Regions from separate parts of the Homo sapiens genome. Here region 2 is reported to be linked to region 1. The links are microRNA targets in miRTarBase. Many come from high-throughput screens and were not tested one by one. Region 1 holds a microRNA gene; the other region holds the end of a gene's coding sequence.
Evidence for each region. The annotated mature microRNA hsa-miR-641 reads AAAGACAUAGGAUAGAGUCACCUC and lies in region 1 at 2,113-2,136, opposite strand. An mRNA with a match to its seed (bases 2 to 7 or 8) in the 3' UTR can be bound and repressed. Matches are read on the target gene's strand: a 7mer-m8 pairs with bases 2 to 8, a 7mer-A1 pairs with bases 2 to 7 and ends in A, and an 8mer does both.

Region 1 (3,251 bases):
ACCGGCTCCTGGGTCACCTGCTAACACCCTGAATCTGACCAGGCTGTTCCTGCTGAAATTCCAAACTCCTTCACAGACAGTCCACAAGGCTCCCAGTGAAAGGGCCCTGCCTGCCCCGCAGCCCCAGGACTCATCTCCTCCCTGCTCCCTCGCTCTGCCAAGCCACACAGGCCTCCGTGAGGCTTGTCCCTGCACCTCACCAAGCTCTGTCCTCCCTTCAGACCTTTGCACTGTGGTTCCCTCCACCTGGAGGGCTGTTCCTTCTCCTCCCATCCCACATGACTGCCTCACCTTGCCAAACTGGGATCAGCTCAGAGGCCCTCCCCACAGCCGCATGCATCTAAAGAAGTGCCCAGTCTGTCACCTGATTTGAATTCGCTGCCTAGCTCCTCCCCCTCTAACCGGCTCCTTGCTTATTAACCTGTTTCGGGTTGGTCTTGCTTAGCCCCACAAGGATAGGGACTTTGGCAAGTACACTGCTGTATTCCCAGTACTGATGCAACGCTGGCACATACGAGGTGTTCAGTAAATGGTGGCGGATGAGTGAAACCTTTTCCTCGGCTCCACAATACCCTTAGGATCCATCCTCACCTCTCACCCAGGCCCACAGGCCAGTGCAGCACAGCCCCTGCCAACCCCTGCAGGCACTTCTGCTGCTCCCCCTGCCCAGGCCCAGCCTTCCTGCCACTCCCAGAGCTGTGAGCTGTGGTGGGCTGGGAACCAGGGGCAGTGGCATGCACCTACGGTCCCAGCTACTCAGGAGACTGAGGCAGGAGGATCACTTGAGCCCAGGAGTTCAAGACTAGCCTGAGCAACATAGCGAGACTCCCGTTTCCACAAAAAATTTAAAAATTAGCTAGGCATGGTGGCATGCACCTGTAGTCCCAGCTACTCAAGAGGATGAGGTGGAAGGATCACTAAAGCCTAGGAGGTCAAGCCTGCAGTGAGCTGTGATCACACCACTGCACTCCAGCCTGGGTGACAGAGGGAGGCCCTGTCTCAAAAGAAAAAAAAAAACAAGCACAGAGCCTGACCTCTGAAAAGACTCCAGTGTGTCTACCTTGGAGGCGCTCAGGGCTGCAAAGCCACTGCGTGGAAGAGGAGTGGGCCCGGGAGCTGCCCTTGTCAGTTCTGACTTGATTGCATGTCTCCCCCGACCTCTGTTTCTGCATCTGTAAAACTGAGATGCTAATTTCAGCCCTGATCTCCTCCTAGTGCTCTCTGACACGGTTCTGTGAACTGGCAAAGGCCTTCAAAGTCCCGGCAGAAATACTAAGAATTACAATTGCTAAGACAGACCAACAGCTCACCATGTGTCGGGCACTGTTCTTAGTGAGGAGACATTTCCGGTAGGCTTATTGTATGCCAGAACAGTTATGAATGCTTCCCACAAATTAATCCACTCAGCCTTCACAATAATCCTATCAGGTGGGAATTATCATCATCCCCATGGCACCGATGATGAAATGAGCTCACAAGGGTTGGGGAGCCTGCTCAAGGTCACACAGCCATGGAGTGGCACGGCTGGATTTGAACCCTGTGCTCTCACTCGCTTCCATACACCTCTTTACAGAGGCTGGAAACCAGAACATTGAAGTTCTGGATCCTAGCTGGGCCAGGCTGGGGAGCTGGATCCCGGAATGCTCGAGGGGACCAAAAGTAGGGGGTGGGGGAGGCTGGATGCCTCCGTTCCATAACATAATCATGACTGCCAACCAAGACTTACACAGTACCAGGCACCATTCTAGGAGCTTCTCGTGGATTAATTCATTTAATCCTCACAACAGCCCAAGGTGGACGTCCTTCTGAGACCACTGTATGGGAGTGAACAGTGTGGTCCAAGGTCGCAGAGCTAGAACCGACTTCACCGTCCTGCTGCTAGCTAACGCAGGTCCCTGGTAGCTGTGTCACCCCCTGCATGGCTCTCTTGCTGTCTTCTTCTCCCAGCACACACCTGCCCAGGGTTAAAGGATGCCTTGCCTCCACTCTGAGGAGGGACCAAGAAATGCTGGACTGGCTGTAGGCAGAGATGCTCAGGGCAGCCTGAGGCTCAGGGGTAAGAGGAAGGAAAGACATAGGACAGTCACCTCTATAGGTAGAGGACAGAGGACAGAGGTGACTCTATCCTATGTCTTTCCTTCCTTTCACCCAGCCTGGAACCTGGTGAGCAAGGAATGCATGGCACTAGGGGCTCAGTGACCTGGGTTCAAATCCTACCCTGGCACCCATAGGGTCTGATAAGATGCGGTGGAAGGCAATTCTTCCTCTGAACTTCAATTTCGGACTCTGCAAAAAAGGACACAAATACCATATAAAGCCCAAAGCACAGGGCTGGGCAGAGTATATGCTCACAGACAAAAGCCACTCCTCCAGTTTCTCCTTGACAAGACGATCTGAGGCCAAGGTTGGCCAAGGGCTCACATCACACCTCTCCCACTTCAGCTATGAGACCTCTGGGAAATCTTTGCACTTCACAGTGAGTGAAATGATTCCTCATCTGTAAAATGGTATCACACTTCTAACTAGCTCGTAGCTCTCCATAAAATAGGCCTAACCACAGGTATGTTTTGAGACTTAAGTGAGATCACATGTACAAAAGCCCTGTCACACGCCTGGCATGGGGTGAATGCTATAAACACTGGGCATCCACTAGCTCTGGAAATGATCTGCCTCTCTGAGATGCTGTTTTCTCATCTAAAAGGGAGAGCATAACAACAGCGCCTACCGCTCTAGAATTCAAGTATTCAGCAAGTTTATCTATATGAAGCATTCCAAACAGTGTGTGGCCCACAGAATGCACTCAGTTACTGTCAGCCATCAATTTCATGATTACTGTTTTCACTGCCACTGTTAGCCCCATCAGGCAAACCCTCTAAAAGCTGGCAGGAGAGGACCAGAGGAACAAACCCCTAGTGGAGAAAGATTCTACAGAGTCGCCGCTGCCTCACAGACTGTGGGACCTTTCTCTCCAGGAACCACGAGCCACGGAAGCCAGTCAGCTTGGAAGTCACTGCTGCGGACTAGGGGCAACCATCTGCCCCCTCTGACCACATCACCAGCCCAGGTCTGCTGGGTCAATCAGGGACTGCAGCCAGTCCTCTGGGAACTCCAGACCCAGAGCAAAGGCTACAGGGCAAGCCAAGGTCATGATCTGGCCTAGGGAGCAGGGACACTGGCCACAGACCTCTGGGGCTGGCTGCTCCCAGCACCAGCCCACAGACCACAATAAGACACCAGATCCATGGGGGATC
Region 2 (3,103 bases), not on the chromosome of region 1:
CTACCACTAGAACAGACGCTCCATGGTGGTATAGACTTATTTCCGCAAACCACCCCCCCCAACTTTTTTTACACAATGGTTAAATAACACACATATTTTTAATGCAATGCCTGATATCACAAAGCCTAAAATAACAATGTTTGGCACATTATAGCTGTTTAGTAAAAGGTTATTAAATGAATTGACTATATGAATGAATGCTTAGTAAATAGCTTTTCCATTTATCTGTAGTTGCTCTATAAATCAGTATTGATGTAATTGAGTGTTTTTCTTCCTCCACAGTACAATGGTCAGTTCCGTTCAAGGAAACACATATCCCAGCCAGGCGCCAGTATATAGTCCTCCTCCTGCCGCTACTGCTGCTGCTGCAACTGCCGATGTCACTCTGTACCAGAATGCAGGACCTAATATGCCCCAGGTGCCAAACTATAACTTAACATCATCAACTCTGCCTCAGCCCGGAGGCAGCCAACAGCCACCTCAGCCACAGCAACCATATTCTCAGAAGGCTCTGCTATAGGACCCGGTGTTCCTCTTGGTGGCAGATACCTGCTAAATGCCACTGACAATGTTATGAGATTCATTACTATCTTAAGATGTGTTTATCCTCAGCTTATAGGAATCTCTCCAGGTCAACAGGTTCAAATATTCAAGAAGGTAGAACTCTCCTCAATTTACACTGACTTTTTAGAGGTTCTTCCCCCCCCGCCCCTGCAGAGGAATGAAACTACTTACAACATTTAATTCCTTTCATAATATGAAAGAATTGATACAAGGCTATTTGTCTCGTAAACCTGGTCTGCAGAAAGTCAAACTTACAAAAACTGTTGTGACAAATGTTATGTACATATATTGATATGTAACTGCATTAGTGGCCATTTTGAATCACAGTGGTGATCGTGTGAATATATTTAACACTGTGTTAAATTAATTTACGTTGCTATTTTATTTTAATCATAAACAACTACCATGTTTCTTAATGTTTTGTGTAAATTTAAGGTAATTATACTATCCTTTTAAACTTCAAGAAAACAAAGTTGTTAGCGTATTTACATGAAGGCGCATTATGTTGTCGTGTGTTTCAGTTTCACATTAAACTGAACCTTTTACTAATTGTGAGCTAAAGAGATATATATATATATGTGTGTGTATATATATATATCTACATGTCTTTCTGTAGCCTCTGCATACTACTGGCTGTCATCACACCAGCGTACAGTAGCTAAATTTTTGGTGCAATTATAGCAAATGATAATGTTCCCTTTTGAACTTTTACATTTTGGCATGACATTTCAGAGTATTGTGGGACCATGAGACAAAATTAAGTACGATCACATTCTTTATTTCTCATTTTAAAGAAATGATGTTGGTTTACCTTTTCCTAGTTGAAGATAGTAATTAGGTTTCTAAGCTGTATACTGTGTTTATTGGTGGCAGTGACACCAAAGATAGAGGCAATGGATAGAAATTTTTAAACTGGAAAGAAAACCTGAATTACACTACATTTTCGAAGTCTCTTGTAATTATTTGGGATATCAACAAAATTTGATTCGTCTGTCTAATCCCTTGCTAGTATTTTAAATATGTCTTTAACACATTGTATCCTTTAATTCTTCATTAAAATGGAAATAAGTAGATGTTTCAAAGTAATCTACATTCCTGGCTTTGCTTAACGTTTATATAGGTATTGTTTTCTTTCACACTGGATTTTTGGGTTGCTCTTTCTGGCCTTTTAAAATTCTAATGGAATTATTTTGGCTTCTTACTTGGGAATATTTTCAAATGAATGCTTTTCTTTTAATTCATGCGAAAAATGTTTTCCACTGACATTGTAATCTTAAATATTTACGATTTCCCTGGTTGGGCTATACTATTATTTTAGCACTATTTAAACAACGGAAAAGTTGAGTCGAACATCATATTTAATGAATTGATGTAACAGGTTTCATACTATAAATGAAAATTTCATTTTTATTTTCTAAGACTGTTGTAATCAGGTAGCTTGTTTATTTTCTTTTTGAGAGAAGATTAAATCTTTAGCCAGTAATCTTAAGGGTGACTAATTTCACAGACTCAGATTTAAAGCACCGTAGTTTTAAATCTGAGCCTGTGAAATTAGTCACCTGTAAGATTACTTAAGGGTAACTTAAGTGTTTCGCTCAAGTGTTGTGTTCTGATTTCCTGTGTTTAAAATATGTTGCCCTGCCCTGAAGTCAAATTTCACATTTTAAATACTATAAGTTAGTTTTTGATAAATATCTGTCGGATTATAATCTTTTCCACTCCAATTTGAGTATTATGGTTTAACTGATATACTTTTCTGCAATTTTTCTTTGTCTTTTGATAAATTCCTGTTTACCAATGTTAAATGTATCATTTTCCCATTTTAATTTTGATATCTTTCATGCTGAAAATCAATGACATAGTCTCTACTATGATTTTTGCCCTATAAAAGTCAAGTAACAGTGAATAGAAAAAACTACCCTTATTACAACCCATATACATTTTTCTTTACCTTTTACATTACTAGCCTTATAAAGGTTTAAATGATGAGTACTTTAAAACTGTTACTGTGTTAGTTTATGCCTTCCCATTATTAAAAATGAAAATACCAGGGGGAAAAAATCCAATGAAAGTGAAGCACTGGCTTGTCTTTCAAATGACAAGACGAGGGTAGAAATAGGAGGGGGCCAGTTAGGATCATGAATGACTTTAAGTTCTGAAACCTGCAGGTCTTGCACTTTCAAGAAATCTTTCATTAATAGCTGTCCTTATTTTGAAGGAATAGAATAATTTATAAAATGAACTAGCTGTAACATAGGCTGGACGCAGTGGGTCACACCTGTAATCCCAGCACTTTGGGAGGCCGTGGCGGGCGGATCATTTGAGGTCAGGAGTTCGAGACCAGTCTGACCAACATGGTGAAACCCCGTCTTTACAAAACTACAAAAATTAGCTGGGCGTGGTGGCAGGCACCTGGTAATCCCAGCTACTCAGGAGGCTGAGGCGAGAGAATTGCTTGAACCTGGGAGACGGAGGTTGCAGTGAGACGAGATCACGCCACTGCATTCCAGCCTGGGAGACAGAGTGAGAAATAAATAAC

Region 2: the mRNA of STAM is a reported target of hsa-miR-641. Seed matches in the 3' UTR shown: 7mer-m8 at 1,167-1,173 and 7mer-m8 at 1,584-1,590.

What each region holds. Positions count from the first base shown.
Region 1 is chr19:40,280,491-40,283,741 of GRCh38, forward strand. It overlaps MIR641 (microRNA 641), which reads right to left and starts at 2,151; the gene lies at 2,053-2,151. The region is part of intron 1 of AKT2 (AKT serine/threonine kinase 2); the gene reads right to left. RefSeq lists enhancers at 49-98, 139-258.
Region 2 is chr10:17,714,261-17,717,363 of GRCh38, forward strand. It overlaps STAM (signal transducing adaptor molecule), which reads left to right. Exons shown (of 14, transcript NM_003473.4): 14 at 283-2,564. The coding sequence ends at 520. Among named protein-coding and RNA genes, the nearest start is that of TMEM236, 36 kb to the right of the region's middle.